Linked DNA regions of Homo sapiens: region 1 is linked to region 2. Evidence: fine-mapped expression QTL. A gene starts in region 2. The other region holds a variant in brackets. All regions are shown on one strand. Distances are from middle to middle.

Evidence for each region. PIP is the estimated chance that this variant, and not a neighbour inherited with it, causes the effect. A credible set is the group of variants that fine-mapping cannot tell apart.
Region 1: its variant is the best candidate, but not a certain one, in a credible set for the expression of EIF4EBP2 in whole blood (TOPMed, PIP 0.58).

Annotation. Positions count from the first base shown.
Region 1 is chr10:70,355,965-70,360,484 of GRCh38, forward strand. All of the region lies in intron 2 of LRRC20 (leucine rich repeat containing 20), which reads right to left. Among named protein-coding and RNA genes, the nearest start is that of LRRC20, 24 kb to the right of the region's middle. The variant T/C (reference allele first, on the strand shown) is at 1,868.
Region 2 is chr10:70,402,329-70,406,328 of GRCh38, forward strand. EIF4EBP2 (eukaryotic translation initiation factor 4E binding protein 2) reads left to right here and starts at 1,817. Exons shown (of 3, transcript NM_004096.5): 1 at 1,817-2,218. The coding sequence starts at 2,074. RefSeq lists silencers at 1,689-1,878, 1,909-2,118.

The DNA of each region.
Region 1 (4,520 bases), 46 kb before region 2:
AGGAAATAATGTGCTACAGAGAGTTGGCCTCAGAGAAGAAAGCTGAGCATGAGGCCCTCCAGCCAGTGGCTATCATACTCAGTCAGAATAACTTCTAACCACACAAGAGACCTAGAAAGCAATATCTTCTTCTCAGAATCCAAATTGAATCCTTTCTTGGGCCAACTCTTTCTTGCTGTGGGACCTCAGGCAAGTTACTTAACTCCAATCTCAGTTTCTTCTTCAGTAAAGTGAGGACAAGAGCTCTTTCAAAAACCTGTATGCAATCTGGGCATGGTGGCTCACGCCCGTAACCCAAGCACTTTGGGAGGCCAAGGTGGGAGGATCACTTAAGTTCAAGAGTTCAAGACCATCCTGGGCAACACAGTAAAACCCTGGTTCTATAAAAAATACAAAAAGTAGCTGGGTGTGGTAGTGCATGCCTGTAGTCCCAGCTAGCTACTTGGGAGGCTGTGGTGGGAGGATCGCTTGAGCTTGGGAGGCAGAGGTTGCAGTGAGCCAAGATCATGCCACTGCACCCCAGCCTGGGCAACAGAGCCAGACCTTTTGAGACTTTGTCTCAAAAAAATAAAAACAAATAAATAAAGTTTTAAAACCTGTATGTAGTGCTGGGCAGAGTAGCTCACACCTGTAATCCCAGCACTTTGGGAGGCCGAGGCGGGCAGATCACGAGGTTAGGAGTTTGAGACCAGCCTGGCCAATATGGTGAAACCCCGTCTCTACTAAAAATACAAAAATTAGCAGGGTGTGGTGGCAGGTGCCTGTAGTCACAGCTACTCAGGAGGCTGAGGCAGAAGAATTGCTTGAACCCAGGAGGCGGAGGTTGCAGTGAGCCAAGATCGCGCCACTGCACTCCAGCCTGGGCAACAGAATGAGACTCCACCTCAAAACAAAACAAAACAAAAAACAAAGCAAAACAAAAAAAAACACCTGTATATAAATGTTCACAGCAGCATTTTCACAATAGTTGAAAAGTGGAGACAATCCAAATGTCCATCAGCTGATGAACAGATAAAGGACATGTCATATATCCATTCAATGGAATATTATTCAGCCATAAAAAGGAATGAAATCCTGACATGGGCTGCAACATGAATGAACCTTGAAAACATTTTGCTATGTGAAGGAAGCCAGTCACAAAAGGACAAATGTTGCATGATTCCATTTACATAAAATGTCCAGAAGAGGCAATCTATAGAGACAGAAAGTAGACTGGTAATGGCCTGGGGCTGGGCGGAGATCAGGAAATGGGAAAGGACTCCGCATGGTACAGGGTTTCTTTTTTGGGTGATGAAAATGGCTTAGAATTAGACAGCAGTGATGGTTATACAATCTTGTGAATATACAAATAAATACTGCATTGTATATTTTAAAATGTAAACGTTACAGTATTTGAATATACCTCAAAAAGAAATGAGGACAACAGGATCCAACGAACAGGTGGTTCTGAGCATGAAATAAAACGTCTGCAAGGCTCTTAGCACAGTGCCTGGCAGGTAGTTTGTGCTCAGTAAGTAAGAGATGCTGCTATGAGGATGCAAAAGTATTACTTTTATTTGAGAATCTGACAAAGATGTGCTTCAGCTCTGTCATCCCTGGAGGAGAGAAATGACCTCTGGATTGCATTTATTCTCACAAGCCCTGGACGAGGAGACAACCGCATGTGCTATCATGGGCTCTGGGACTTTCCAAAAAAAACCCTCCTTCCTGGCAAGCCAGTAAGGAGAAAAGAAGCCCATATTCAATTAAAATCAAAAGTAAATCCCACACAGAATACAATCAAATGACACACAGTCAACAATTTGAGACATTAAATTATTTTGATTTCACTGATGACTCATCACAAACGTATACATACAAAAGGGAA[T/C]AGAAACAGCAGCCAGGATGACACTAACAGTATGGCCACTAATGGCTCTAAAGGGACCACAGCTGGTCCGAGTGGAGGAGGCCACGTGGCCAAGCCAGACCTTGGAGAGGCTTGGGCAGGCCCTGAGGTCTTCCTGCAAGGAAAGCATCAATCAGTCCCTTTTTGCAGAGAAGGAAACAAAAGCCCAGAGAAGTTAAGAACTTGCTCAAAGCCACACACTAAGTAGGCAAAGGGTAGAGTTTGACATCTTCTTGAGAACATCGCCCTACAGAGAAAGTCCAGAAACCCGGATCTGCTGCTGCCTTTAACCCAGTGTCTTTGGGCAAGTCACTTATGGGGCCTCAACCTCCCTATCTGTGAAACACAGAAATGAACACAGCCTATGTCTCTCCAAATGTGGGATGCACAAAACTACTCTCAAGGTTATCTTCGGGTGTGATGAGATGCCAAACAACGCAATCCACTTGGAGCAGGGCAGAGGGCGAGGGGGCAGCAGATGGAAGCTGCGAGAGCCACACCCGCTGAACCGACACAGCACCCTGGGGATAGAGGGCTGCAGTTACCAACTGACCAGATTTCTACAGCAACTTTCTCCTCCTCGGACAATCTTTCAGGGCTTGATATAGCAAGGAATCCACCCCTGTAAGCAATGGCTTCTCAGAACAGTTGTTTGTCCTCCTGATCTCACAGATGCATGACTGATGGGACCCAGGAAGCAGCAACAAATGTCGCCAACCAGTGCCTTGTGCACCACGTCTGCCCCAGACAGACACCACTGCCTGGCATGGCTGGCCTCAACCACCTGCCACTCCTCAAGCTCACCGACCATGCTGACTGGCTACCGCAGTCTAGAATGCCCCTCCCTCCCCTCTCTGCCCACCAGCCTAGCCCCACCTCCCCAGAAAGGGCACCCACCTCAAACCTCAGGACACTTGTCTTAGCGTGGGACCTGGACTGTTTTCTCCTGGCTGGTAGAGATCTGCAGCCTGCCTCCAGGACCCACAAGAGGTGAGCTTATGTAGGGGCACAGGCAGCCTCTGCGGACCACCCCTCGCACCCAGTACAGCGCTGGGCAAACGCTCTGAACATAGTTACACCCCTCACCATCGGGAAGCTTGGTCTCAGCATCCCACTTTGTAAAATGGGGGTACAAATTCGCTTTTAGGGAATGAAGAAAAGAATGAGCTAATATTTATCTAGGTGTTGAGTTCAAAGCAAGAAACACACTAGTCTGCAGCAAAGTAATTATTCTACTATGGTTTTACTGCAGCCTGAAAGAAACTAGCTCTGTGATCCTGGAATCTGCCTTGACAAAGGCTGTGGCTGTATCTACACAGAAGAATCCCTCTCCCTGCCCTCCAAACCCCAGCCCCGCCCTTCCATTCGAACACCTGAACACCACTTTCCATTACATCACTCTCCCATTCAAGAATCTCCATGCCAGGCCAGGCACAGTCGCTCATGCCTGCAATCCCAGCACTTTGGGAGGCAGAGATGGGAGGATCATTTTAGCCCAGGAGTTCAAGGCCAGCCTGGACAACATAGTGAGACTCCGTCTGTATAAAAAATAAAGTTAACTGGGTGTGGTGGCATGCACCTGTGGGCCCAGCTACTTGGGAGTCTCACTTGAGCCCAGGAGTTTGAGGCTGCAGTGAGCCAAGATCATGCCACCACACCTCAGCCTGGGTAACAGAGTGAGACCTTGTCTCAAAATTATACTCTCCATGCTAGTTTGGAGGTGCTGACCCCACTGTCCAAAGCCTAGCATCCACACAGAAGGATCCAGCTCCCACCTCCCTTTCTAGATATCCCTCTTGCACCTCTTCATCAAAGCTCTTGCCCTCTGGCCAAGCCAGGCTGCTTATTATTCCCTGCAACTCCCTTTATTTTTCCACCTCTACATTTTTGCTGGTACTGTTCCCATTAAGTAGAATGTTCTCCCTTAGCTTCAAAAGTTCTCGTCAACACTGTATTTCAAGGACTTGTTTAAATGCCTCCTCTCCACTAAGCCTCTGTTCATGTCCTCAACTAATGTAATTGCTCCTGCCCTTGAACCCCCGTTGTTCCACTGCATTTTTTTTCTTTTTCTTTTTTTTTTTTTTTGAGGTGGAGTCTCCCTCTGTTGCCCAGGCTGGAGTGCAGTGGCGTGATCTCGGCTCACTGCAACCTCTGCCTCCCAGGTTCAAACAATTCCCTGCCTCAGCCTCCCGAGTAGCTGGGATTACAGGTGCCCACCACCACACCCGGCTAATTTTTGTATTTTTAGTAGAGACGGGGTTTCACCATCTTGGCCAGGCTGGTCTTGAACTCCTGACCTCATGATCCACCCGCCTCAGCCTCCCAAAGTGCTGGGATTACAGGCGTAAGCCACTGCGCCCATCCGCATTTCTTTTATTTTTGTTTTTACTAGAGATGGGGTATTGCTATCTTGCCCATGCTGGTCTCAAATACCTGGCCTCAAGTGATCCCAGTCTGCCTCCCAAAGCATTGGGATTACAGGTGTGAGTCACCACACCTGGTTCCTCATTGCTTTCCTCCTCCTCCTCCTCCTCCCCATCTCCCTCCTCCTCCTCCCCCTCCTCCTCTTCTTCCTCCTTCTCTTGCTCTTCATTTCTTTTCTTTTGAGACAGGGTCTCACTCTATAGCCAAGGCT
Region 2 (4,000 bases):
GGATAATTTTTTATTTATTTTTATTTTTGTAGAAATGTGAGAGGAGGGTCTCGCTTTTTTATCCAGGCTGGTCTTGAACTCCTGGCTTCATGCCATCCTCTTACCTGAGCTTCCCAAATTGCTGAGATTATAGGTGTGAGTTACTGTGCCCCTACTGGACTGATGCACTTTATCAACCACACACTGTAAGCTCTACACAAATGTAAACTAGTATCTTCCCCTTTCCTTCCACTAGAAGTGTCTCTGTTGGCATGTCCAAAGTCTCAGAGTCTTTCAAGGTTAAACTCAGCCCTCTGCAACTCTGGCAGCTTCCAGATGGCAGGACAGGCAGGGGACTTTTTTTTCTGGATTCTTGGGGCACTCACCACAAAATCAGTACCATGTAATGCCCTGGCCTGCCCTGGGCTGTTGTAAGTTCTTTTGTCTATGTTCTTGCCAAGCACCTGTTTGACCCTCTGAGCAGTGAAGCAATAGCTGTTTTCCCCTCAACCTCTCTTACCCTTATTTCTCTCATTTGCAAAATGGGAATGATGGTAGCTATGTTGGCCTTACCCATGAGTGTCTTCCCAGTCCCACCTTGGGCATGTTGTGGGCAGAAGTAGTGCTGCCCTAGTGCAGCGGTTCTCAAAGTGTGATCTGGAGAGCCCCTCGGGGATCTGAGACAACCTTCTTTTCTAACTACATACCTGTGTGAGGCTGGGTTTTCTTCATATAGTTGAATCAACACATTACAACAGCTTGAACACAGAAACAGATATGAGAATACAGCTGTTTTCTATTAAGCCAGATATTAAAGCGTTTGCAAAAATATAAAATAATGCCACTGTTCTCACTATTTGTTTTAGATAATTAAAAAATATAATGTCAACATGTAATAGGTTATTATTTTATGAATTAATAAACATTTAAAACATTCTCAGTTTTAATTTGTTTTTTGTTGTTGTTGTTGTTGTTGTTTTTTAGAGACAGGGCCTCACTCTGTTGCCCAGGCCGGAATGCAGTGGCTATTCACAGGTACAATCCCACTAGTGATCAGCAGCGGCTCAGTTTTAATTTCTAATACAATAATTATCAATACATATAATCCACACAAACAAAAGCTCTTGGAAATCCTCAATAATTTTCAAGAATGTAGAGGTACTGAGACCCAAAGTTTGAGAACCCCTCGAGGAAAGAATAGAGTTCCAGATCTAGATTTTTCAGGTACCTCATGGTCTAAGCCCTCTCCTGTGCCTCATTTTAACTCTAATACAATAATACTCATTCTTGTTGCCATGAGTGGCTCTTGGTTTCTTCCTTTTCCTAATGTTTAGATCTTGCTTTATGTGTGTATATAGTGATGGTCTTTGGAAGGATACACAATTAACTGGTACAGCGGTTGAGGGGAGTTCGGAAACTGGGAGAAAGTGGCACCATAAACCTTTCTGCTCTGTTTGATTTTTAAAATACAGTACATCGTGCATGTAGTGCCTGAATTAATAATGAACAATTAAAAGTAAAATTACATTTTTAATGCATAGGAATGCATGAGAAACTCAAGTCTGCTCAAGTAAAGTGGTGTTAACCGACAATGACAAACAATAAGAAGAAAGTTTTCCTTGTCCGCCTTCACCAGGCTCACAAACACTTAGCTCGCGCTCCCTCTGGCTCTTCTCCCGCTCGCTGGGGTTAAGCCACTCTCTTCCTCAGCCCTGCCCCTCGTCCCCGCCCCCTTCAACAACTTCAGCCACGCCCCTCACTGCCTCGCCCCGCCCCGCGGCGACGTCACCTCCGGCCGACCAGCTTCCCCAACTCCCTCTGGCTCCCGCCTTCGCCCGCTTCCGGTCGTCGTCGTCGCCGCTGCTGCCGCTGCTGTTGCTCCTGAGGCTGCTGGCTGAGGCCGGAGGATCGAGCGGCGGCGGCGGCGGCGGCTGAGAGGGCGGCGGCGGGAGCGGAGCGGGACGAGGGAACGGGAGGAAGCGAGCGAGGAGCGCGCAGAGCGCGCTTTTCCGTCCGCCTGAGGAGCCGAAGCAGCCCCGGCCCCGCCGCCGCCGCCTGCCCGCCGGACAAAGCCGAGAGCCCGCGCCCACAGCCATGTCCTCGTCAGCCGGCAGCGGCCACCAGCCCAGCCAGAGCCGCGCCATCCCCACCCGCACCGTGGCCATCAGCGACGCCGCGCAGCTACCTCATGACTATTGCACCACGCCCGGGGGGACGCTCTTCTCCACCACACCGGGAGGTGAGCGCCGGCCAGCCGTCCGCCGCGCCCGGTGTCCCGCCGCGGTCCTCTAACTCCTCGGCGCCTCGGTGCCCGGCCGCTTCGCCCCCGCCCCCAGCTCCACCGAAGCCCCGGGGACGCTGCCCTTGGGCCCGCCCGAGCGTTCGGGACCCTTTACTTCGTGTTCGCTCTTGCCCGCAGCTCGAGTCGGCGCGCGCCCCACTCGGGAATGTGGCTGTCCTGTCGCGAAAAAGAGCTCTTGTTTCCGCTTCGTGGCAGGCTTACGCATTCGACCCAGTTCTCTCTCTCCTCTCTGCCTCCTTCCCGGGCGGATTTGGCTCCACTTGGCCTTGCATTACAGTCTGCATTGCCTGTCGTAGATTGTGCAAATTAATGCTTGATTTTGGAGCTGGCTCCGGGGCTTTTTAAAAAAGAACTTTGGGAGAGGAATTCGGCCCTGGCATCCTGCGATGGCTTGTTTTTGCTGCTTTTAGAACACCGGGAGGAGGCTGGAATGCGGAGTCTGGAAGCCTCGCCCAGCGTTATCCCGCTTTGACAGCATTGTTTACTTTGCTGGACGAGGCCCCACGGGTGAGGGGAGTCCCCAGGCCGGGAGGAGAGCGTGATAAAATAAAGCTCAAGTAATAGCCAAGGGAAAGTAGGTGGGGGTGGTAGGGTGCTGACAGCCTTAAGGTAGGGTGTCTTTCGGCAGCGACGCCTTTGGAAATGGATTGAAGGACCTTTGTCAAGGACACCCCAGTTGGGTGGGGTGGTTGCTTGATCCTGTGGAAGGGGCTAGAGAGAGGCAATCCAGAGAGAGGGTGGTTCCCTGGCATTGCTTTTCAAAGCATGACCAGGAACTGTTTACAAATAAGTAATACTGGGGTAGAGGTGAAGCTTGGTCACGGGAAGAGAGCTCAAAGGTTGTCTGTGCCCTAACTGGGCTGTCCTCCAGAGGGAGGAGCCTGGAAAGCGATTTTGAGGAGCCTTATTGAAGGGAACGGGGCCTCCTTTTTAACTTCAGAACTTTGTCTTCTTTTGGTGCTGGGGTGGCCTCTTGCTAGAGGGTGGGGACTTCGCAGCTCCTGCGGTCTAGAGGATTGCTAGCCTTGTTCCTGTGGGCAGGGCTCAGGAGCTGTACTACAACCAATCCGATGCAGTTAGGCCTGGACCATCCTTAAATCAGTTGCACAATAGCAAGGCCTGTGGAGTAAGGAGACCTTCTTGCCAACACCAAGGGATAAAATCTAGGAGGGAGCTTTACAGAGAAATTCAGCCAGGCCGCTCTGGGGGCTGGGCGGGCTGCCTTGAAAGGCTTTTTAAATGACCCAGGCAGAAGTTCAGTAATATATATGGAGAGCTGGGTTTAAGGAAATGTTAACTTTGCAGAATAGTGGAGTTCTTAGGTGGCTTAACTCATGGAAGAAATCTCCCCCCGATATGATCAGTTCAAGACCAACTCGTGTTTGAGCATGGTACAGGGTCTCACTCTGTCGCCCAGGCTGGAGTACAGTGGCACGACCTCGGCTCACTGCACTCTCTACTTCCTGGGCTCAAGCGATCCTCCCACCTCAGCCTCCTGAGTAGCTGGACCACAGGCACGTGCCACCACGCCTGGCTAATTTTTTTGTATTTTGGTAGAGTCTGGGTTTCTCCATGTTGCCCAGGCTCGTCCTGGGCTCAAGTTATTCGCCCCGTCAGCCTCCCAAAGTGCTGGGATTACAGGCGTGAGCCACTGCACCCGGCCAAGATCTTGCTTTTTAATCCTGAAAAATTTTGGCAGACCAGAATCTGCTCCATATA